3 linked regions of the Homo sapiens genome follow. The protein of the gene in region 3 binds, or shares a complex with, the protein of the main gene of each other region. Each region holds a gene or a part of one and is shown on either strand. Other genes may lie near its edges. The genes, in order: KIF11, RBM10 and KAT2B.

Evidence for each region.
Region 1: KAT2B (region 3) and KIF11 share a complex: the UniProt entries of both Homo sapiens proteins name them as parts of the large chromatin remodeling complex.
Region 2: KAT2B (region 3) and RBM10 share a complex: the UniProt entries of both Homo sapiens proteins name them as parts of the large chromatin remodeling complex.

Annotation. Positions count from the first base shown.
Region 1 is NC_000010.11:92,644,903-92,652,353, forward strand, and holds part of KIF11 (kinesin-like protein KIF11), read left to right. Parts: intron 1-460; coding exon 461-740; intron 741-3,309; coding exon 3,310-3,532; intron 3,533-4,932; coding exon 4,933-5,084; intron 5,085-5,498; coding exon 5,499-5,615; intron 5,616-7,451. UniProt on the Homo sapiens protein: Motor protein required for establishing a bipolar spindle and thus contributing to chromosome congression during mitosis. Required in non-mitotic cells for transport of secretory proteins from the Golgi complex to the cell surface.
Region 2 is NC_000023.11:47,168,920-47,176,370, reverse strand, and holds part of RBM10 (RNA-binding protein 10), read right to left. Parts: intron 7,057-7,451; coding exon 6,873-7,056; intron 5,344-6,872; coding exon 5,113-5,343; intron 3,244-5,112; coding exon 3,174-3,243; intron 1,353-3,173; coding exon 1,279-1,352; intron 1-1,278. UniProt on the Homo sapiens protein: Binds to ssRNA containing the consensus sequence 5'-AGGUAA-3'. May be involved in post-transcriptional processing, most probably in mRNA splicing. Binds to RNA homopolymers, with a preference for poly(G) and poly(U) and little for poly(A).
Region 3 is NC_000003.12:20,120,306-20,127,756, reverse strand, and holds part of KAT2B (histone acetyltransferase KAT2B), read right to left. Parts: intron 5,090-7,451; coding exon 4,953-5,089; intron 1,853-4,952; coding exon 1,644-1,852; intron 335-1,643; coding exon 208-334; intron 1-207. UniProt on the Homo sapiens protein: Functions as a histone acetyltransferase (HAT) to promote transcriptional activation. Has significant histone acetyltransferase activity with core histones (H3 and H4), and also with nucleosome core particles.

The sequences.
Region 1 (7,451 bases), on a different chromosome or scaffold from region 3:
ATTATTAGAAAGCTTTATAGCTAATTTAAACATAACATTTGTAATGTTCATGATTTGTTTTACATACTAGGCAAGGGAAACTGCTTAATAACAGAATAAATGACTGATTGTCCAATTTAGGGACTAGACAAGAGGCTGTAGTAGATGCCCTGAAGTAACATTGCCTAGTAAGAGGAATAAAACAAGTAGACAGATTTTGAAAGCATCATAACTGGAGGAGGGTTGTGAAAGGTTTCATGAGCAAAGATGATCCTTTCAAAGGTCATTTAATGGCAATGCTGTGAAAAGACAGTGGCCAAGGCATCCATTCTCAATGCAGAAGATTTACTAAGATCACGGGCCCTGGAGCCAGACTGTCCACGTTCAGATCTGCCACTTAAGAGCTGAGTGATCTTGGGAAGTTATATATCCTTTGAGTCTTAATTCCCCATTTCAACAGTGTCATTCTCTTTTCCTATAGGAAATCTAAGGATATAGTCAACAAAATGACTTTTCACAGTCAAAAATTTTGTGCTGATTCTGATGGCTTCTCACAGGAACTCAGAAATTTTAACCAAGAAGGTACAAAATTGGTTGAAGAATCTGTGAAACACTCTGATAAACTCAATGGCAACCTGGAAAAAATATCTCAAGAGACTGAACAGAGATGTGAATCTCTGAACACAAGAACAGTTTATTTTTCTGAACAGTGGGTATCTTCCTTAAATGAAAGGGAACAGGAACTTCACAACTTATTGGAGGTAATAACTTTGTAAGTGGAACTTACTTTGGGGAGAATAATAATCAGAAAGTTAAATATTCTTGGCTAAGAATAGATTTCAAAACAAATGATATTTTAAGCTATAATGACTTAAACTTTTAAGTATAATATTTGGTATGCTTACAGATGATCTCGTTTTGTGCTTTGTTATATGTCTTCTCAATCTTGGAATTAATTTAACATTTGTACAGTTTCTTTCCTGTATTTATCCTTGGTTTCTGACTTAGTAGTTTCTTCAAAGAAGGGCACCCTGTCTTTTGATATGTAATACCTTCCACTTATATATGCTTTTTTTTTTTTTTTTTTTGAGATGGAGTCTCACTCTGTTGCCCAGGCTGGAGTGCAATGGCACGATCTCAGCTCACTGCAACCTCCGCCTCCCAAGTTCAAGCGATTCTCCTGCCTCAGCCTCTCGAGTAGTTGGGATTATAGGCACCTGCCACCACACCCGGCTAATTTTTTTGTATTTTTAGTAGAGATGGGGTTTCACTATATTGGCCAGGCTGGTGTCAAACTCCTGACCTCATGATCCACCCGCCTCGGCCTCCCAAAGTGCTGGGATTACAGGCATGAGCCACTGCGCCCGGCCTATCTTTGCTTTTTACTTTTCTCCAAGTACATTCAAACCTATTATTATTTTAAGTATTTAGGTTATTGTTCTGGTAACTAAAGGATACTTGATAGGTTTATGGATTTGCTTGAACTTAACGCTTGCATGAGCCCTTTGTAACTTGGTTTTTTCTTTCTTTGCATTAATAGGATTTTACTAACATTCTCAGGAAGTAGGTACAAAGAATTAAAATTTTTAATCTATATAAGCTGTTTTCACTAAAAGGAACTAGAGTTTGTATACAAATAGCTAATTTCAGATTTGTGATAGGAAATGTATAATATATGAGCCTAGAGATCTTGTCATACCAGAGAGTAAGGAAGCTGTTAAAGATTTCTGAGGTTGTCAAAAGGTCTTAGTAGCCAACCTCCCCATCTTCAAAGGTGGCATAATTTGAGCATCAAAAAGAATAATGGCCATAATGGATTAAAACATATCAAATATATTAAAACTTACGAACTCATAAAAATTTCATAGGTCTCCTTTGGATCATGCTAGGGAAGCAACACATTGTCCTGAAAATGGGTAAAGAAGAAGAAAAAATTTAGCATCCATCTGTCTTTCCTAAAAGAACCATATCTTGGTTTAGCAGGGTAATGAAGAAAAGTGTTTCATTAGACTCTAAGCTAATAAAATGGAGAAGAAATGATAGAATTAATATATCACCAGTATGCAACTCTTAATAAAATAACCCCTGTGGATGTTAATGATGGCTTAAACCATTTGATCAAAAGCTGTTGGGGAACTTTATAATTAATAGGCTAACCATACCTGAACTCACTGATAAATCTTAACATGAGAGACACAGCAAAGCATTTTGTGCTTGCAGTACTACCTATGAAATACTCTTGCTAAAAAATTAAACCTGAATTAAATCAAGCCTTTAGGTCTAACCAGTTTGTAGAAAATAAAGCATAGAAATGCAGTTGACCAAATCCAGAATTTGAGATGTTCAATGGGGTAAAGACCTCATGTCTTCAGCAACAAGTTTTTTTTTTCAAGGGAAAAAATATGAGAAACAATAACCTGTATATCAAAAGAGACTTAAGACTAGAGGTCCTTAAGTCTTAGTTTGCCTGAGACAGTCCTTGTTGATATTGTTGTATTAGAATGATTATTAAGAATGGGCCCTTTCACTCCAAAAGGTGTCCCAATTTGGATGATAAATTATATAGTCACCGACTTAAGACCTATGAACCAAATCTAGTGGTGAATTCTGGTTCAAACAAAGCAATTGTGACACACATTTGAGACGACTGGTGAAGTTTGAACATGGACTAGACATTTGATAGGAAGGAATCAGTGTTAACCTTTTTAGATGTGATAGTGGTCTTAAAGTGCTCTTACCTCTTAGAGATACATGCTGAAGTAAATGGATGAAATGATACAGGATTTGTTTCAAAATAATCCTGGGTTTATGGAGGAGTTGAGTGGCCAGTCCTGTTGGTAAATGTCTGTACTCCACTTGTTGGTAAATGTTGAAGCTGGGTAATGAATACAAGGGAGTTAATTATACTGTTCTCTCTACTTTTGTATGTGTTTTTAAATCTTTTATTACTGAAGGCCAGGTGTGGTGGCTCATGCCTGTAATCTTTGGAGGTCAAGGTGGGCAGATTGCTTGAGCCCAGGAGTTTGAGACCAGCTTGGGCAACATGGTGAAATGCCATCTCTTCAAAAAATACAAAAATTAGCCAGGCATGGTGGTACATGCCTGTAGTCCCAGCTACCTGGGAGGCTGAGGTGGGAGGATGGCTTGAGCCTGGGAGGTCAAGGCTGTAGTGAGCACTACTCATGCCACTGCACTCCAGCCTGGGCAACAGAGTGAGACTTGTCTCCAAAAAAAAAAAAAATTATGGAAAAGGTAAGGGAAAATATGATGTTGAATAAAACACTGGCAACTTTAATTTTAGTAATAAATATTTATTTGCATCATTTACAGGTTGTAAGCCAATGTTGTGAGGCTTCAAGTTCAGACATCACTGAGAAATCAGATGGACGTAAGGCAGCTCATGAGAAACAGCATAACATTTTTCTTGATCAGATGACTATTGATGAAGATAAATTGATAGCACAAAATCTAGAACTTAATGAAACCATAAAAATTGGTTTGACTAAGCTTAATTGCTTTCTGGAACAGGATCTGAAACTGGATATCCCAACAGGTACTTTAAAAGAGAAATAGAATTGTTAAATTTTTTGAAGTCGAATTCAACTCTATGTAGTGTCAGATGTTCAGAAAAATTAGGTCCTGCCATTGCCTGACAGAAATTTAACATCTCACTGTAATCAACTCAAAATGGGAAAACTGGAACCTTAAAATAGTTTTAATCAAGTGTCATGATACAGGTGGTATCACAATTCAGTATAATTTCACATACTTTCAGGGAGTTGACTTTGTTAATAGGGGATTTTTTAAAACAAATACAAACCTAGCACTGTTTGTAAAAGGACATTTTAATACCACAAATATGGGAGAGATGTAACTGACTAAATCTAGTTTAATGCAAAGTTTACCACATTGTGCATTTTGTTCTGTGTCCCTCTCATTTTGTCATAGACTATTGCCATTTAGGAATCCCTGTTTTAAGAGATCAGGGATCACCATGGACCATTAGCATTTAGGAATCAACATTTTGAGAGATCACATATGGCAAAGATCATTATAGGCTGTAATGATTCAGGGAGGTCTTCATGGAAGAGATGTAACAAGCTGTTTTACACAGCATGAATAATTGGGTTCTTCATTGGATTATGGTAATGGTTGCACACCCTGTAAACTCACTAAAATCCACTGAATTGTACACATAAAATGAGTGTTTTATGGTATGTAAATTATATCACAAAACTCTTTTTTTTTTTTAATTTAAAAAGCAATTGTTAAAAGGGGATGGTGCTACATAGAATGTTGGTTTATTTATTCCCCAAGAGACCTGTAGGATTTACTGTCTACTTTTCAATGAAGTTAGGAATGTAAATGTTGAGTGAAAAGGCAAGTACTTTTGTAAATCATGAGAGCATGAGCTTATTACAGAGAAATATAACTGGGGGCCTGATGCGGTGGCTCACACCTATAATCCCAGCACTTCGGGAGGCAAGGCAGGAGGATCGTTTGAGCCCAGGGGTTCAAGACCAGCCTGGGCAACATAGTATATGTATATAACTAGTTAATATTTAACCACCACACCACATTTATAGTGAAATGATTACTCCTATCAAAGTAATCATGTTGGGAAATCTACTCATTCCAATAATGCTGCCATTTTTTTCAGAACACTATAACTCCTTTTAGAGCTTATAACACATCTTTTATATATCCTCAGAGATGGTAAACTTCATGTTTTAGAGAGTAGGATGAATCTTGAAAACAGTAAAGTCTGTCATCAAATTAGAAAGTATTGTTAGTTGCAAACAATGTCTGACAGGTAGCAAGACTGATCCTCATATATGGCAATTATATTTTTATATTTTTAGAAGACAAGATTAATTAGGAAGTTTTAGGTTTTTTTAAAAATATTTACATCTCATACTTTAATTTTTACCTCTTATCTAATGTCCGTTAAAGGTACGACACCACAGAGGAAAAGTTATTTATACCCATCAACACTGGTAAGAACTGAACCACGTGAACATCTCCTTGATCAGCTGAAAAGGAAACAGCCTGAGCTGTTAATGATGCTAAACTGTTCAGAAAACAACAAAGAAGAGACAATTCCGGTAAATTTAAAGGATCATATTTTATAATAGAACTCTTTTATGAACTCTTGATGTGGCTGACTTCATGTGAAGAATTTTACTGTTTACCCCTCAATCTTACCCCGCCTCTCATTAATGATAGGCCTAGCCCTTAGGCTTGTTTCTTTTAATCTTACTAGTTTTTAAATTATGCTAGTAGATAATAATAGCCAATACTTAATATTGTGCTTAGTAACATTGTTATATAGGAACCTCTACTCTCTATAAAAATATATTAGGAATTATTTTCATTAATTTGTAGACTTTCTAATAATTTTGTTGAGGTTTAACTTTTATATTATACCATGGGCATTGTGTTATACTCAAAGCTGCTGTTACTCTTGTGATGACTTTTAAGCCCTTGGACTTAGTCACTCATCCAGTTTCTTCTTTTAGGATGTGGATGTAGAAGAGGCAGTTCTGGGGCAGTATACTGAAGAACCTCTAAGTCAAGAGCCATCTGTAGATGCTGGTGTGGATTGTTCATCAATTGGCGGGGTTCCATTTTTCCAGGTATGTCATATCAGATAACCCTTCCACATCTGATGTAAGTCATTCATTTACTATTCATTATAAAGGTATTGTTCGTGGTGAGCAGAACAACAAAAACCTTTCAATTATTCCTTAGGATGGCTTGTTAACGCTTATGATTTGAATTATTTACAAAAATCTGATATTGATAAGGGGTTTTCTGTAGAATAAATGAAGGCAGAATTTGACTTAATCTACATCCTTAGCTGATAATCTTTAGCTATTGTATTTATTCCTTTTCTGCTTGCTATATACTCAGACACTGAGAGCAGTCATTTCTCTTCCTTCTACCTTTGACATGTAAGTCTTGGAACCTATCTCTGCCCATAATCAGACTTTGAAGGCAAAGTGATTGAAAAGATTGAGAGACTGGAGGCCTCTTAGGTTATATTAGTGATTTCTCCTGCCTGAGGCTCTTCTCTTGTAAACTGTTGCCCCATGTTTCCTGAGCACCTTGCCTGCTCTAATCCAGTGTAATTAAATCCTGTGACCTCTCCTACCCACTCTTCTTTTTTTTTTGAGACTGAGTCACCCAGGCTGAAGTGGAGTGGCACGATCTTGGCTCACTTAACCTCCGCCTCCTGAGTTCAAGTGATTCTCCTGACTCAGCCTCCCGGGTAGCTAGGATTACAGGCATGCACCACCACACCTGGCTAATTTTTTTGTATTTTTAGTAGAGACAGGGTTTCACTATGTGGGCCAGGCTGGTCTCAAACTCCTGACCTCAAGTTATCTACCCTCCTCGGCCTCCCAAAGTGCTGGGATTACAGGCGTGAGCCACTGTGCCCAGCCCTCTACCCACTTTTTTTTTTCTTTTGAGACGGAGCTTCGCTCTTGTTTCCCAGGCTGGAGTGCAATGGCACGATCTTGGCTCACCGCAACTTCCACCTCCTGGGTTCAAGTGATTCTCCTGCCTCAGCCTCCCGAGTAGCCAGGATTACAGGCATGTGCCACCATGCCTGGCTAATTTTGTTTTTTTTTTTTTTTTTTTTTTTTTTTTTTTTTTTTTTTTTAGTAGAGGGGGTTTCTCTGTGTTGGTCAGGCTGGTCTCGAACTCCCAACTTCAGGTGATCTGCCTGCCTCGGCCTCCCGTAGTGCTGGGATTACAGGTGTGAGCCACCGGCCCGGCCCCTCCTACCCACTTTTTAACACTGTTGAGAACATAGTTGGTTTATGATTCATCTCAGCATTGATGACTGAGTACACAATCAATGTCACCAGTCCCTTAATGTTCTCTATGGGTAAGTAGGAGGATTCCAATGAAATACAACTTCCAAGTGAGGCTCTATAAAGTGCTGGTATCTTTTCCTCTAATTTGAGGGTACAAGCCTAGACAGAGTGTGTGAAGGAAAAATTTCCTTACGTAGGACATTGGTATCTACATTTACAGTTGAAGTTCTACTTCTGAGATGCATATGCTTGTACCTTTTTTTTTTTTTTTTTTTTTTAAATATATATAGAGAGAGGGTCTTGCTATGTTGGCCAGACTGGTCTTGAACTCTTGGCCTCAAGCAGCCCTCCTACCTCAGCCTCCCAAAATGCTAGGATTACAGGCATGAACCACTGCGCCTGGCTGCTTGTACCTTTTTTGTGTGTATGTCTTGTTTTGTTTTTTTGTTTTTGAGACGGAGTTTTGCTCTTGTTGCCCAGGCCAGAGTGCAATTGCCTGATCTTGGCTCACCACAATCTCCGCCTCCCGGGTTCTAGCGATTCTCTTGCCTCATCCTCCCGAGTAGCTGGGATTACAGGCATGCACCACCACACCTGGCTAATATTGTATTTTTAGTAGAGAAGGGGTTTCTCCATGTTGGTCAGGCT
Region 2 (7,451 bases), on a different chromosome or scaffold from region 3:
GAGCGGATGGAGGGAAGAAGGGAGGTAGGGAGGGAAAGCGCCACAGCTCTCGGGCGCAGCTGTTTGCTGCTCTGCCGGGCACACGCACGCACACATGTGAACACACACCACCAGGCACACAGTGTTCGGCTGACCGACGCTTGCCGGACAGTGGGGAGAAACCCCCACTCGGCCCTGACACTGCCAGGCCACACCCAGGGCCAGGACTACACAGGCTACACTTGGGGGGTGAGGGGAGACAGGGAGGGGGAGGGAGAGGGGAGAAAAAGAGAAAGAGAGCGCAGGTGCGCTAGTGCTGGAGAAGGGGAAAAAGAAAGAGCCATTTCGAACAGATGGAAGTTTCTGCCATGAGGCCGTCTTCCCATGGATGGCTGGGTCCTGGGCCCATGGCACTAGCCTACCAACCCCGAGGAGACGGCCCCAGGGCTGCCTCTGCCGGGATCCCCCATTCTACCACCTCTGCCCCTTCCTCCCCTGAAACTGCTCTCCAGTGCCCTACACCAGGGATCTGGGCAGGGGTGGGTGACCAGGCAGATCTTTGGGTCTCGGAGGTCCCAAAGCTGCTGAGTTGGGATCCCGTGCCAGGCTTGGGGGACAGGCTCCCCCCAGGGCTGACTGTGCACAGGTCCTTGCCGAGAAGACAGAGCTGCCTGAGGTGGTGCCTCCTGCGAGTGTGGAGATGTGATAGGAAGGGTAGGGGCGGCGAAGTGAGGCCAGGGTGTCGATAAAACTATCATACTCGACGGGAACTTGAGATCAACAGAGCAGTGCTGTCCCCTTGCATGAAAATCAAAGGGCCAAATTCACATGCAGGGATGGGGCTGACAAAATGAGTCTTGCTAGTGACTGTGCCAATAGCTAAGCTCCTCACTGGCAGGACTTCCAGTGGTCCTGAGGGTGGAATGAGGTCCTGGCTCTGGCTAACCCCAGAGAGGGGTGCCCCCCCCACCAGCCCCGGGGGAGTGGGAAGCTAGGTGAAAGAACCCACCCTGGCAGCTCTTTCTCTGAACGCTCAGCTGGGAGAGGTGAAGGGGCAGCACTAGTGCCTGGTGGTAGGAAGGGGCCAGTGGTGAGTGTGGGCTCTGGATGAGAAGCCCAGTGGGGTAGCGAGAGATGGGAAGAGGAGATAGTGAGGGTCAGGAAGGGGAGAGAGGGGGCGGGGGGATGGGACACAGGGCCACAGGGCAGGGAACTGTGTCCATAAGAATCAGGCGATGGGGAGCGCTCGATTACAAAGTAGTATTTGTTTGGGGGGGGGTTCAAGTGCGGCAAAGCAACCTGATTGGCTTCCATCCATCGTGTAGCGTCCTGCAAGTGACTAAACTCGACGAAGGCGAAGCCCCGGCTCTGACCTGGAGACAGCATTCAGATACAGACGCAGTGGGTTAGTCAACAGCTTTGGACACACGGCGTTCCCGGGGGCGGGACCCGAGGGGAGAGGACGGGGGGCAGAGAGGGAAAGGGGAAGAGGAAAAAGGAAGAAAGAGAAAGAGGCAATCAGAGAGAGAAAGACTAGCGGGCGTGGGGGGCAAGGTAGATGGCCAGGTGGGGCAGGGAAGGTGGAGGGAGAAAAACAGAGGCCAGAGGTCGGTAGGGGGAGAGACACACACACCAACTGGGAAGAGAGAGATGGGGCTCGGGCAGACCTGCCCAGCCAGCCTGGGGTGACAGAGACGGAGAGAAGCAGCTGGGAGGGAAAGAATACGAGAGATCTGCCTCCAAAGAAGGAGGGAGGGGATGGTGGGCAGGCTGCTGGCTCCACACAAGCCACAATACGTAACTCCAGGGCGGGCCCAGCTCAAGGCCAGGGGTGCCCAGGAGGGGTCCTGTAACAGGTGTTGAATCACAGGAGCAAAAGAGAAGCTGGGCCAGGCTGCTCTGCGAGGCTAGGAAGGCTCTTGGCCCATTGGAAACCAGGGGCGGTTAAAGACACGACCTCATCTCAGCCTCACCGCAGCGCAGGGGAGGCGGGCCTCGCTAGGGAGCCACCTCAGGGCCACAGGGTGGAGACTACAGCCACAAACAGTCCAGGTTCCCCTGGACAAAAGGAGAATGGTGGCCAGGATTGGCCAGGAGGACCTTAGAGGTAAGAATCAATGGGTGCCTGGGAGAAGCGCCCAGGGCCATTGAGAAGGCCGCACCTGGAACACCTCCTTGTGGAGAGAGAGACCCAGAAGCTGTCCGTGTGTGGTGTAGTTGGGGTGATGCAGAGCAAGACCTACATGCAACCAAGATTCCAGGCTTGGGAAAGGGATTCAGGGTTGAGGCCTCAGGATAGCATGTCCTTTAGAGGCAGATACATGGGGAGGGCTTGGATGAGAGGGGCTTGGGGGGGCATGCTTAATGTTCAAAAGAATAACCGTTAGGATGCATAGGAGGATGGAATGAATAATATAGTTGGGGGGGGCAGAGAGAGAGAAAGAGAGAGAGGGAGAAAGAGAGAGAGAGAGAGAGAGAGAGAGAGAGAGAGAGAGAGAGAGATGGAGGTGTGGGGAGGAGAGACTGAGAGATGGAGAGAGAAGCCCAGGCAGAGTGAGGCCCCACTGTGCCTGCCTTGGGGAGCCTGGGCAGAGGTCCTGTAGAGACAACTCCCCCCACCACCACCCTGCTAACCTCAGGCCAGCTCCAAGCAGCCTGCAAGAGGGAGGGAGGGAGGGAACAGGCGAGGCCAGGAAGTCCTGGCTGTTCCTTGGGATGTGTCCTTGGATAAGAGCCATCCCCTGCTTCCCCCTTGGGACACACATGTGGGACCACCACGTCAGAGCTACTTTCTGGTCAGAGGCTGTTACCAAAAAATGTGGGGGAAAGTGAGGGGCAGAGGAAGGAGAAGAAAGGAGAGGGAAGGGAGTGTATGGGAGGGGGTTACCATCTCAGATACTCAGAGTCCCAGAGAGGAGGTGCCTGGGAGCCTGGCCCTGGCCCTGACCCCAGGGAGCACCCAGCTCAGCTCAGAGCTGCACCCCTGCCCCGACAGCCCCATTGAAGAGGCTTTTGGCTGGAGCTGTGAGGAGAGTGTGGGGAGTGGGAGAGAAGAGAGGGCACCCCCCACGCTGCCCATTCCCAGCTGTGGCAGGAAGGTGGTGGAGGGAGTGGGGGAGAAGGCAGAGGCAGGAGGGAGATTCGGAGGCTGAGGCTGGCCACTTGAAGGGGAGGGCACTAGAACAAAAGCTCACCTGAAGATTTGTTCCGCATCAGCCGAACCTCCCGTGCTTGCACGCCGTGCGACTGCAGCTGGCCACGGATCTATACGGGGAGATACAGAGTAGGGCAGGCTCAGCACAATGGGGCCGCTGGGTACCTGAGGCTGGCTGGAGGCCTCTGGATCCCGAGGGGTCATCGGTGATGTGCACACAGTCTCCTCCGCCTCTTTCGCAGCTTTTCCCTGAGTGACAACAGCCCCAGGCCCACACCAGTTCACAGTCTTGACTTTCAGCCCCAGACTTGCAGAAAGTGAATCAAATGAAGAAATGGGCACAGAGCAAGGTAAAGCATGGCAGCAGGACGACCCTCAGGGGCACAGAGAACAAGAGAGCAAGTGAGCCAGCCACTTAAGAACGGTGGGCAGGGTGATCTGACAAAGGGCTCGCTGGCAGCCACGAAGTAAGGAAACCTGGGATGCAATTCTTGCCCTTGGCAAGGGGATAACCCGCACCCCCGCCCCTGCCCTGCTGACCTGCAGCTTGCGTCAAAAGAGATCCATGACATAAATGTCAAACTGGGGAGGACAGGAGTCTGAGCAAATCCCAGCCATGTGCCCTAGACCATGACTGTAGCAATAACTTAGGGTGGAGACAAAAAGCAAAAAGATGTAGTCCTGGGGATTGCTTCCCAGATGGAGTAGGCCAGAGGGAAACTGCAGAGGCAATTCAGGATTTGGCCCAGGTGAGGCAGGGTCTCTAGGCCAGTGAGGTCTCTCACTGAGGACCAGGAGCCTATGCCAGCCATTCTTGGGAAGGAGTCTTCATGTCTCTGGGCCTCAGTTTCCCCACCAGGTTAAACAACAGACAGGACATTAGCCTTACACACACCCATACACAGGGTGAAAAGGAAAAACACACAGAAGAGCTTATCAGGACTCCAAACTCAGGGAAGGCTGAGGAAGCAGCAAAAAGTGGGCTCTAGGGTCCAGCTGCCCGGGTTCAGACTCCAGCTCTGCTCTGCCACTCACTGGCTATGAGACCTGGGGCAAGTCACATTCCCACTCAGGGCTTGGTTTCCTCATCCGAAGGATGGAATACAAAGAGTACCTTCCCTGCTGGGCTGCCATGGGGACTGAATCATACCTAACACATGGCCCACCCTGAGATACATTCTCAACAAATGTCAGCAACCAGCTACTGTCTGACCCTGAACAGGGCAGGTGGGCCAGACCTTAGAAACCCTCAAATACACAAGTGGGATTTTCTCTGTTACAAAATGAGCAGCTAGCAGATTTCAGAGGAGGGCTGATCAGAGAATTCATGGGGGTAGGGGGTGAGGGGCGGCGGAGTAGACTAAGAAGGACCAAGATCAGGACACTATTCTTGGAGGTTATTCTGGTAGGCCTCGTGGGGCTTCAGTGTGGCTGTCATGAGAAGTATGTATGAAAAGGAAACAGGAGGAAAGGGAGGCAGGCGTGGAGGCTGTTAGCAGCCACCCAAGGCTCTGAGGCCAGGCCAGGCTGCTGACAAAAAAGGATGGGGGAAAAAGAGAAGGAAATTTCAGAAAATCCCATCCCTCCCCCAATGGTTACAGGGCCCCAGTGTCATCTCTGCTACCAGCAATAGCCAGCACTGGCCCGGTGAGCGTCTGGCCCATGATGCACACATGCAAAATGGCTGGATGACCAGTGGAATGTGCAGGACTGCTCTTCTCCCGCCCATACCCACCACTACCAGACACCCATGGCCAATGTCCCTTGGCCAAGCCGGCCTCTCTGACACTCCTCCCTCCAGACCGGGGGGCCGATGGGACCTGCCCACAGAGGACGGATCAGTGCTGGGGGATAGGAGCTGGAGGGGGAGAAGGGATGAAAGGCGCTGAGGTTGCAGGTGAGGGAGGGGTGGGGAGAAGTTGAGGGCCCTGGAGGAGACCCAGCCTGGCCTCCTGCCCGGGGCCATGGGGGGCACGTACGTCATCCTCAGTGGCTGCCTGTGGCAGCATCCTCAGCATGACGATGTTACTGGCCTTCTCCTCCTCCTCCTCATCCTCCTCCTCCTCCTCCTCCTCCCCTTGCTCGGTCCGATAGTCCTGGTCCCGATAGTCGCCGTCTCGGGGGAAGCCTGGCGGGCCGGTGGGGCTGTGCCTGTGCCGCCGCCGCCGCCTACGCTGAGTCTCGGAGCCCGGGGAGGCCTCGTAGGAATCCTGGCCGACAGAATGAGATGAGTGACACCAGACGGGCAGTCAGTCTGGGCAGGCCTAGGAGCTGGCCGCTGGCTCTGTGAGGCAGGCAGGCTCTGAAAGCCAGGGATGTGCGGGCTCCGGCTAAAGGCTCAGGCAGGCAGGGTGGGCAGGCCCCGGCCTGCAATCTTTCTGGGACTGTAAATTCTCCATGGGGTCCTTTTGGGGGCTGCCTTCAGTGGGTGGGGAGAGGTAGGTGACAGTATTGGTGTGGGGGGAACTCCCAAAGGTAGCTGACAAGACACAGCTTAAACCTCCTTGGGGCAAGATGGCCTGGGGTCAGCACACCAGACCCCACCCTTGATTTTCCTCTCCTCTCTGGCCAGCTCAGGGGGTGTGCTCAATTGCTTCACTGTACCACCGAAGGCTGCATGTCTCCTACGGTTCCACCCTGCAACCAAGCTGGGGGCATAAGAACAGCTTCAGATCTCAGCCAGAGCCAGGCAGCAGGAGCTGGTGGAGGTGGTGTGAGGGCTGCAGACACTCCCTCCTCAGTCCCTGATCCTCAGCCTTGGCCAGTCCTCCACCACACACCACGCTCAAAACGGTATGGCTGTTGGGCTCTGGGCTGTTGCCCAATCCATCCATTCCAGGACTAAGCAGAGCAGGCCTGGGGCCAAAGCCCTCCCGCCCACAGTGGGGAAGCACCAGATAACTTGGTGCTCCATTCCCACCCTGGCCAGGGCCCAGTGCTCCTGGAGACGTCTGGGCACAGCTTGACAGCTGCCACTGGAGAAGCCTGGCAGTCCACCAAAGGGGTTTTTGCCCTGGACCCTCCAGAGGGCAGTGGGCAGCTCACAGACTGCCCCCCAGGGCTGGGCTTGCAAGAACTCCCTTCCCAGCCTGCTGGACAGGAGAGCTGCCTGCTCGCATGGACCAGGTCCCTGACTGCCCCTCCAACTGGGATTCCCCTAAGGCAAGCCTGTTTCTTCCCCTCGGGTGGGGGCTCCCTGATGGTGTAAACATCGCGCCTCATCCCGCAGGCTAGGGTGAACTACCCAACATGGCACTGGCTTCTCCAGAAGGGTCCTTCCCTTCTGTCTAGGGGCTCTATCACCACTGGGAATGCCCATGGCTGGCCTCCCAGAGCTCCTCAGCTTGGTGGTCTGCAGTCCCCTTGTTGTCCTCCCAACCCCAGACGCCGGGTCCCATGGAAGAGGCTCTTCAAGTGCCCAAGTTGGCTGGGAGCGGGCAGTACAGGGTTCACAGTGAGCCATGGGCCCGAACTGAACAACAGGGAGAAAGGGAAAGAGTGGTGGCCAGGGGCCCTCAGAAGTACAGAGCCAAGCATGTGGAAGCCAGGGAGACCCAGGTTGGGAGAGGAGCCCTCAGAGAGGGGAGTGGGAACAGGCCCTCCAGGTGAGGCAAAGCCACCGAGCACAGTCTGAAGGCACGGGAGTGGAGAGCTGCCTGCACACGGTGCTGCAGCCAGACACAGAGGGCCCTTGGGAGCCCATCCCAGCCAGGCCTGGCGCAGCGCGCCCCCTCCTCACCTCCGCACTCTGCTCCTCAGATGAGTCGTCATAGTCATGCTTGCCCTCCTGGCTGCCATACTCGCGAGGATATGAACGGTAGTCCATGTCCCGGTAGTCGTGGTCTCGGCTGCGGTTCTCCCCACCATCATCCTGCGAGCGGTCAGTGGCTCCATAGCGGCCAGTCCTGTCACCACGACCACCACTAGTGGAGGAAGAAGGATGGGGAGGGATCAGAAGGTTGCCCTTTCTAAAAGGTGCAAGAGGCCCAGGTGATGTGTTCTCGTAGGGTTTTGGTTTTTTTGGAGGAGCATACAACAGAAGTGAGGTGCCCTTCTGATCCTATCAGAGAAAGAAGTACATGATACCACCATGACTTAGCTCTGGTGATGTTAACCATGGTCATCTGGTTAAGGCAGTGTCTGCCAGGTTTCTCACCCTGTAAACTTTCTATTTTTCCCTCCCCCTACTCTATTCTTTGGAAGCCCTCAGGCCCGCCCCCATACAGGGATTCCTAAATCCCTGCTCCACATCTCTGAAGTGCAACCTGCCTCTCTCCATCCCTATGTCACTCTCTGGTCCATGCCACTGGCTTCCCTC
Region 3 (7,451 bases):
CCGTGGAAAAATTGTCTTCCGTGAAACCAGTCCCTGGTGCCAAAAAGGTTGGAGACCATTGGAGTGAGAGGACTATTCCCAGAAAGTCCTTAACTCCACTTTGAACCTTCTCTGGACATGGCACAGAGAGATCTTCCCAAGCTCTGCAGGCCTTAGTGAGAAGCCCCACATTCTGCTCTTCTTCTAAGACCTTGGGTTTACCCTTACCTTGACTTGCTCATTTGAGGTTACAGCACAGAAGACAATCTCTGTGAATCCTTGAGATGGGAACATACGGAAACAGATACCACCAATAACACGGCCATCTTTAATTAAAGCAAGGGTTTTGTGTTTCCTGAAAGAATAAGATTATGTCAAAGTTTTACCTATCCTAGTTATATAAATATACTTTTTGGGGTGTTCCTTATTAACCAACTAAGAAAGAGGGACATGTCCTAAGTTTCTATAGAAACTTCCTTCATGTAGCCCCTATCTCGCTAGACCATCCTTTTATCTGAACTTTTTAGAGCTAGGTCGCCTGCACAAGATGTCATCAGCACTCCCATCAGAACAAAATACCAGTCACCTAAGAAGTGCCTGAGGTTTACAAATAGAGAACAGAGTATGTGCAGAGGTGCTCTGGAACTGGCACAGCCAGTGCCAAGGAGGGGTCAGGGAGAGCAGGAAGTCATGGACAAACATGGTATGTGTCTCTGAAGAGTTAAGTCTTACTCCAAAATATTACAGAAACATTATGAAAAAGAATTTAAAATTTACATATACAATTTGCAAAATTCCGCATTATGGAATCCTTCCCTCTGTCTAAAGCATCACTCTGAATTGTCACAGGCATGGATCACAGTCCCCATAGGCTACTGGGCTATGTATGTTAAAATAAATTCAATTAGAGAAGTTTAGTTCTTTAGGGTTTCGTGGGTTTTTTTTTTTTTTTTTTTGAAATGGAGTTTCGCTCTGTTGCCCAGGCTGGAGTGCAATGGCACGGTCTCGGCTCACCACAACCTCCGCCTCCTGGGTTCAAGCAATTCTCCTGCCTCAGCCTCCCAAGTAGCCGTGATTACAGGCATGTGTCACCAGGCCTGGCTAATTTTGTATTTTTAGTAGAGACGGGGTTTCTCCATGTTGGTCAGGCTGGTCACAAACTCTCAACCTCAGGTGATCCTCCCACCTCAGCCTCCCAAAATGCTGGGATTACAGGCATGAGCCACCATGCCCGGCCTAGTTTTTTGTTTTTTTTTTTTAAGCAATGGATTTTCAAAGTTAACCTGTCTTATATCCCAATAATTGCCCACAGACCTGGGCAATAATGGCACCTAGTTAAGATACCAAAACCAATATTTTGATTATGAAGAAAGCAGAACATCTTAGTGTTACATTCTCTCACTGCTATAAAGAATGAAGCACAGGAGAGTCATCAGCAATGTAAAATATAAAGTTTCATCATCATTAACAAGAAAATTTGTAAATTGTTGAAAATTACTCTTAGCACTTTCAGACATGAAAATCAGCTTGGTGAAGCTCTGTATCCACAGCAAGACAGGTGCAGTAGTATTCGGTGGATGACTATGGCTGACTTTCACTATCTAAGCAGTTCCTCTTTCATTTAAAAAGGAAATAAGGAAGAAGGAACAGAAAGTACCACTTACGGGTCAAAGACGAGCCGTGTGATGTATTCTTTTGGCATTCGGGGCAGCTGGTGGGAGAAAACGTTCTGTAGGCCAACCAGCCACATCAGGATCTTCTTGTTTGGTTTCTGGTTGAGGGAATTGCCAACCACGTGAAATTCAATTACACCCCTGCGCTCTTCCAACCTTGCCGCCTCATCCCTGGCCGAGTGTGCTGACAGAAAATTGGTCTGAGATGCAAGAGACAGGAAAAAATTACACAGAGCTATTCTCTCAAGACAGTGGGGATGGGACACATCCAAGCTTCTCATCTTTGTTCTAATAAGATACACATTTGTGGATTTTCAGAGTCCTAAATACACATGTGTGCACACATACACACAGAGACACATACACATACAAGTTATGAAGACAAGACAGAAAAGGCAGGTAAAGCATTTTGAGAAATTGGAGTATTATATGTGTACACGGATGATATTCAGTGTAGATTAGGGGCCAGCAAAGTTTTCTGTGAAGGGCCAGATAGAAAATATTTTAGACGTTGTGAGCCATAAGGTGTTTGTCACAACTACTCCTTCTTCTGCTATAATGCAAAAGCATCCACAGACAATATGTTAAAGAATGGGTGCAGTACTGTTCCAATAAAACTTTATTTAAAAATACAGTAAGCAGACAAAATGTGGCCTGTGGGTTATAGTTTGCCAACCTCTGGCTTCAAGGAATCCTCTCCAGCTGAGCTTTAAGGACCCTTGAGATGACAGATTCAAATTCTCATTACAGGCCCAATAGTAGCACTCATGTATATATTCTTTTTTTTTTTTTTTTTTTCTGAGACGGAGTCTCGCTCTTTCGCCCAGGCCAGACTGCAGTGGCGCTATCTCAGCTCACTGCAAGCTCCGCCTCCCGGGTTCATGCCATTCTCCTGCCTCAGCCTCTGGAGCCTGCCACGGCGCCCAGCTAATTTTTTGTATTTTTTAGTAGAGACGGGGTTTCACCGTGTTAGCCAAGATGGTCTCGATCTCCTGACCTCGTGATCTGCCCGCCTCGGCCTCCCAAAGTGCTGGGATTACAGGCTGAGCCACCGCGCCCGGCCTCATGTATATATTCTTAACACCTCTTTTTAAAGAACAGTTTTCTTTCCAGAGAATATCTGTTGACCTACACTCAACCATAGCTGGAAGCACAACCATGTGCCAGCACTTATGCTCCCCATCTTATTTAATCTGCCTAGTGGTTTGCAAGTAGATGCTCCACAAACAGCTCTTCAAGGAAGGAAGGCCCTAACTGGTGACACTTCATCTCATTAGTCCAGAACTGGCTATCCAGGTAACCAGGTGCCATGCTAGTCAACTTCAAGCTACCAACATATGGAACAACCAGCTCACAAAACTCCTGAAAATTTAACAATTTTCTTGTGCATTCCAGTACAAGCCAGCTCTAGTACACTACTAAATATTAATATATCCAAAATATTTTCAAACATGTGACTGCATCCTGATGTAGTTTGAATGTGTGACCCCTCCAAATCTCATGCTGAAATGCAATCTCCAATGTTGGAGGTGGGGCCTAGTGGGAAGTGTTGGATCATCAGGGCAGACCCCTCATGAATGGCCTAGCACCATCCCCTTGTTGATGAATGAGTTATTGCTCAGTTAGTTCATATGAGATTTGGTGGTTTAAAGGGGTCTGGCTCCTCCTCCTCACTCTCTTGTTCCCTCTCTCACCATGTGATGTGCCTGCTCCCACTTCACCCTGCACCATGAGTATAAGTTCCCTGAGGCCTCCCCAGAAGCTGAGCAGATGCTGATGCCATTCTTGTACAGTCTGTGGAACTGTGAGCCAATTAAAGCTCTTTTTTAAAAAAATAAATTACCCAGTCTCAGGTATTTCTTTGTAGCAATGCAATAGACTAGTACAAATCCCCATTTTATAGCTGAAAAAAACCTAAACTCAGCTAATCTGTAATGTTACTAAATCCCTAAAAAACTATAGTCTTAAGCCCTCACAGACTGGACATCTAGGAGGAAATGGAAAGATCAATTTTAGGAAGAGATTTTTCTATTACAACATTCTGGTTCTCTGAAGTATCCTCAATGTCATAAAATAAATATTTAAAGAAACATGACAAATTGAAAATTAACACTGTAATATAATCTCCAAGCCATTTCTTCATTTCCTGGAAGCTGTCAGAAATGTCTTAAGACAGGTATGTCTTAAGAAATGTCATTGCCTTGCATGCCCTCAGATGCAAGGCAATGAGATGACAGCAGCATTTTTACCAAAAATGCCTTACTTGAATCTAATCCTTAGTAAACAATCAACAAATCCAAAAAGAGGGACCTTATACAAAACTAGCGACCAAGACTCTTCACCAATGGCAGTGCTGCAAAAGACCAAAACAAGGCTGGGGAGTTGTTTTAAAGGAGACTAAACAAATGAAGAGATAAGAATTAAATGCAATGCACAATCCCTAACTGATCCTTCAACAACAACAAAGGTTATAACTGACATCATCTGGCTATATGGGAAATTTAAATACGGTTTTATATTAGGCCAGAGGTCAGCAAACTTTTCAGTGAAAAGCCAGATAATAAATATTTCATACTTTGCAAGCCACACATTCCCTGTCTCAATTATTCAAATTTACTGTTGTAATGCAAAGACAGCTGCAAACAATATGTTTCAATAAAACTTTATTTGAAAAAAACAGCCAGTGGAGCAGATTTGGCTTGCAGGCTGTAATTCACCAACCCTGTATTAGAAAATATTGTAACCAGGCTAAATTTTCTAAGAGTAATGACTGCATTGTGGTTATGTAAGAGAATAGCTTCCTTATGAGATACAGTACATGCAAAAATAGTTAGGGGTGAAGTATTATGACATGTGTTTTTAATTCTGAAATGGTTCCAAATGGTTCATGGGGAGTGGGGAGAGAAAGAAAAAGAGCATATGGGGAGGCGCAGAGAGAAAGAGAGGTAGCAAATGTGGCATAATGTTAACTGCTGAATCTCAGTAAAGAGTCTATGGATTTTTATTACAGAATTTCTGCAACATTTATGAGGGCTTGAAATTTTTCAAGATAAAAAGCTGGGAATGATGCCTTCAACTGTGAGATTATTAGTAAGTGGACCTGTGATGTGATATTCATCAAGGGGAATTACCTCTTGATCAGTTGTTCCTGCCCTCTCCACACTGACCACCAGGTTAAATGCAAACCAGGGTAGCATAACATGTTAACTCTCAGCATTAGCATCCCCACTTCTGACAGCTGGAGTGGCCAGGAGAGCAGAAGAGGTCTACCAGCTGGCTGCCCAGGTTTACCCTGCTGACCTCTGGTCCAAGCATTGCTGCAGGGTCCGTGATGGTAGACATAACCTCGTTGATTAATTCCATCGGAATATCCCCCATAACTCGGGGTTTCTTGGCCTCCTCCAGAACATGAGAATCAGTCATTTTCCTCTTTTCTCCTATGATGATCAAAATAAAAGGCAAACAATGGGTGGTTCTAAACACAAAACAAATAATACACGCCAACTAATTTTCTAACAGCATTGATGGGCATGGAGGTCAACTCTATCTTTACCACCAGGGGAAGGGGTGACAAAGGAAGACAGGAAAGAGAGCCATTGTGAGCTCACAATAACTGCCAACCCAATTCATTGTGAATATTTTCTACTTTCTATGATGATTTTTAACTAGATACATGAAATATTAAGGCACATGTTCCTTCATCTGCAAATGCAAAGGGGTGATTCTAGCTATTGTTTGTTAGTACTCTCTAATATAGTCTCTTCAAGGTCAGAGAACATGGTCCATATGACACCAAAACGTCAAAATGGATTGAAATTTTTACCTTATGACCTAAAATAAGACCAATCTTTTGTAAATGTGCAGTGTCTTCTTGGAAAGAATGTGTATTTTCATATTTTGATCTCTATAACTCCATTAGCTTCAGCTTACAGATCATGTTGTATGGATATCAGTAAGAGCCTTACTGATATTTTTGTCTGTTTGACCTATGAATTACTCAGTTGTTTGTTTAAAGCCTCAACCGTTGGTTGATTTGATTATTTCTCCTTGTAGTCATGTTAATTCCACCCCGCCCCCACCGGCACCCCACCATATATGTACGGAAATCAGTTTGCATTAGGCTTTGGGCTTTATTGGTTAGTTATTGCTATGTAATAAACCAACCCCAAATGAGTCTTAAACCATAATAACTTACTATCATAGCTCATTCATTTCGTATGTTTCCTGATGGGTGGCTGATTTCAGCTCATCTCATTCAATCTTGGCAGGCTTGTTCATGAGTCTACCCACTGATTGGAATCTCTGTGCTGGGCTTGGCTATACACACACACACACACACACACACACACACACACACACACACACACACACATATGCATATGTGTATGTATGCATATATATTATGTATATATAGCTATATATTTGAAATATACCATAAATTATTTTTAATAAACAAATTTATGGATTTAATTTTCTATTATAAAATGACACACTTTATCTTTTACAATGCTTTTTTGCCCTAAAATGATGCCTCACAAAGTGAGCAGGACCACTAGCCTATCAAGTAGATGCAATCTCACCATTCCACACAATAGGAGAGCCATGCAAAGGCAGAGAGAACTTTCTTCCGCTTTCCTCATGAGATTGCATGGTAGTTTTTTTCTCCTTTCTATTCTCATGTTTGGTTTTTCCAGTTTTTTCCAGACATAACATGTATTTATTTTTACAAGTAAATTTTTTGAATTTTTAAGATGTCTAGATCTAATTTATTTCCTCACATGTGAATCCCACTGCTATCTCAATATAACATTCTCCACATAGCATTCTCACTATCTCTAGTTGAAAAGGAGCAGAACAGTATAAAGTAACTTGACTGTAGACGATTCTTCCAGAAGTATTACATATTATTTACTAAATCACTTTTGTCGAGTTCTTTTTTTTACAATTTTTTGTTGTTTGTTTTTGGAGACAAGTAACAATATTTTCAGACATCTGACCAATAAGTCCTCAAATTCCATGATTCCCTAAGAGTAATGCTGAAAACTATTTATTTCGTAGCTGGGGTTTGTACTTGATATGCCCTCTGCTTGTTAGACTGCTAATGGTGTTTATGATTTTTTTTAAAAAGTCTGAGGCTGAATCCAAGCTCACTGGTAAAGAGTTTCTGCATGAATTAGTGATATCTCCCTTGGAAGTGAAAGGGAATGGTGGCATATGCTAAATATATGGCACTTCTTATATTATAAGGTCCTCTTCTTTCCCTCTTTCATGGTACTTCTTTTATTTAAAAATTTGGTCACATCCAAGATTTGTCTGACGTCAAGTCTGTGGACAGAAATGCAACCTTCAAAACATTCTCTAACTGTGAAATGCTTCTAGGCTCAAGAGATATTTTTGCCCATGTGGTAGATTACATTAATGGCCAAATTCTTTACCCTCCTGGTATCTACACTCTTTGCTATGTGACTTTGCAGTTATTCCTACGAAAGGAATAGACTACCTTTTTCCACTTCTCCACCTCTCAACTCTGAGTTCAACTACGTGACTTGCTTTGGACGACAGAATGAGGCAGAAGTCAGCAGGGTATGGTGGCTCACACCTATAATCCCAGCACTTTGGGAGGCCGAGACAGGTAGATTACCTGAGGTCAGGAGTTTGAGACCAGCCTGACCAATATGGCAAAAACCCATCTCCACCAAAAATACAAAAATTAGCAGGGCATGATGGTGGGCACCTGTAATCCCAGCTACTCAGGAGACTGAGGCAGGAGAGTCACTTAAACCCAGGAGGCAGAGGTTG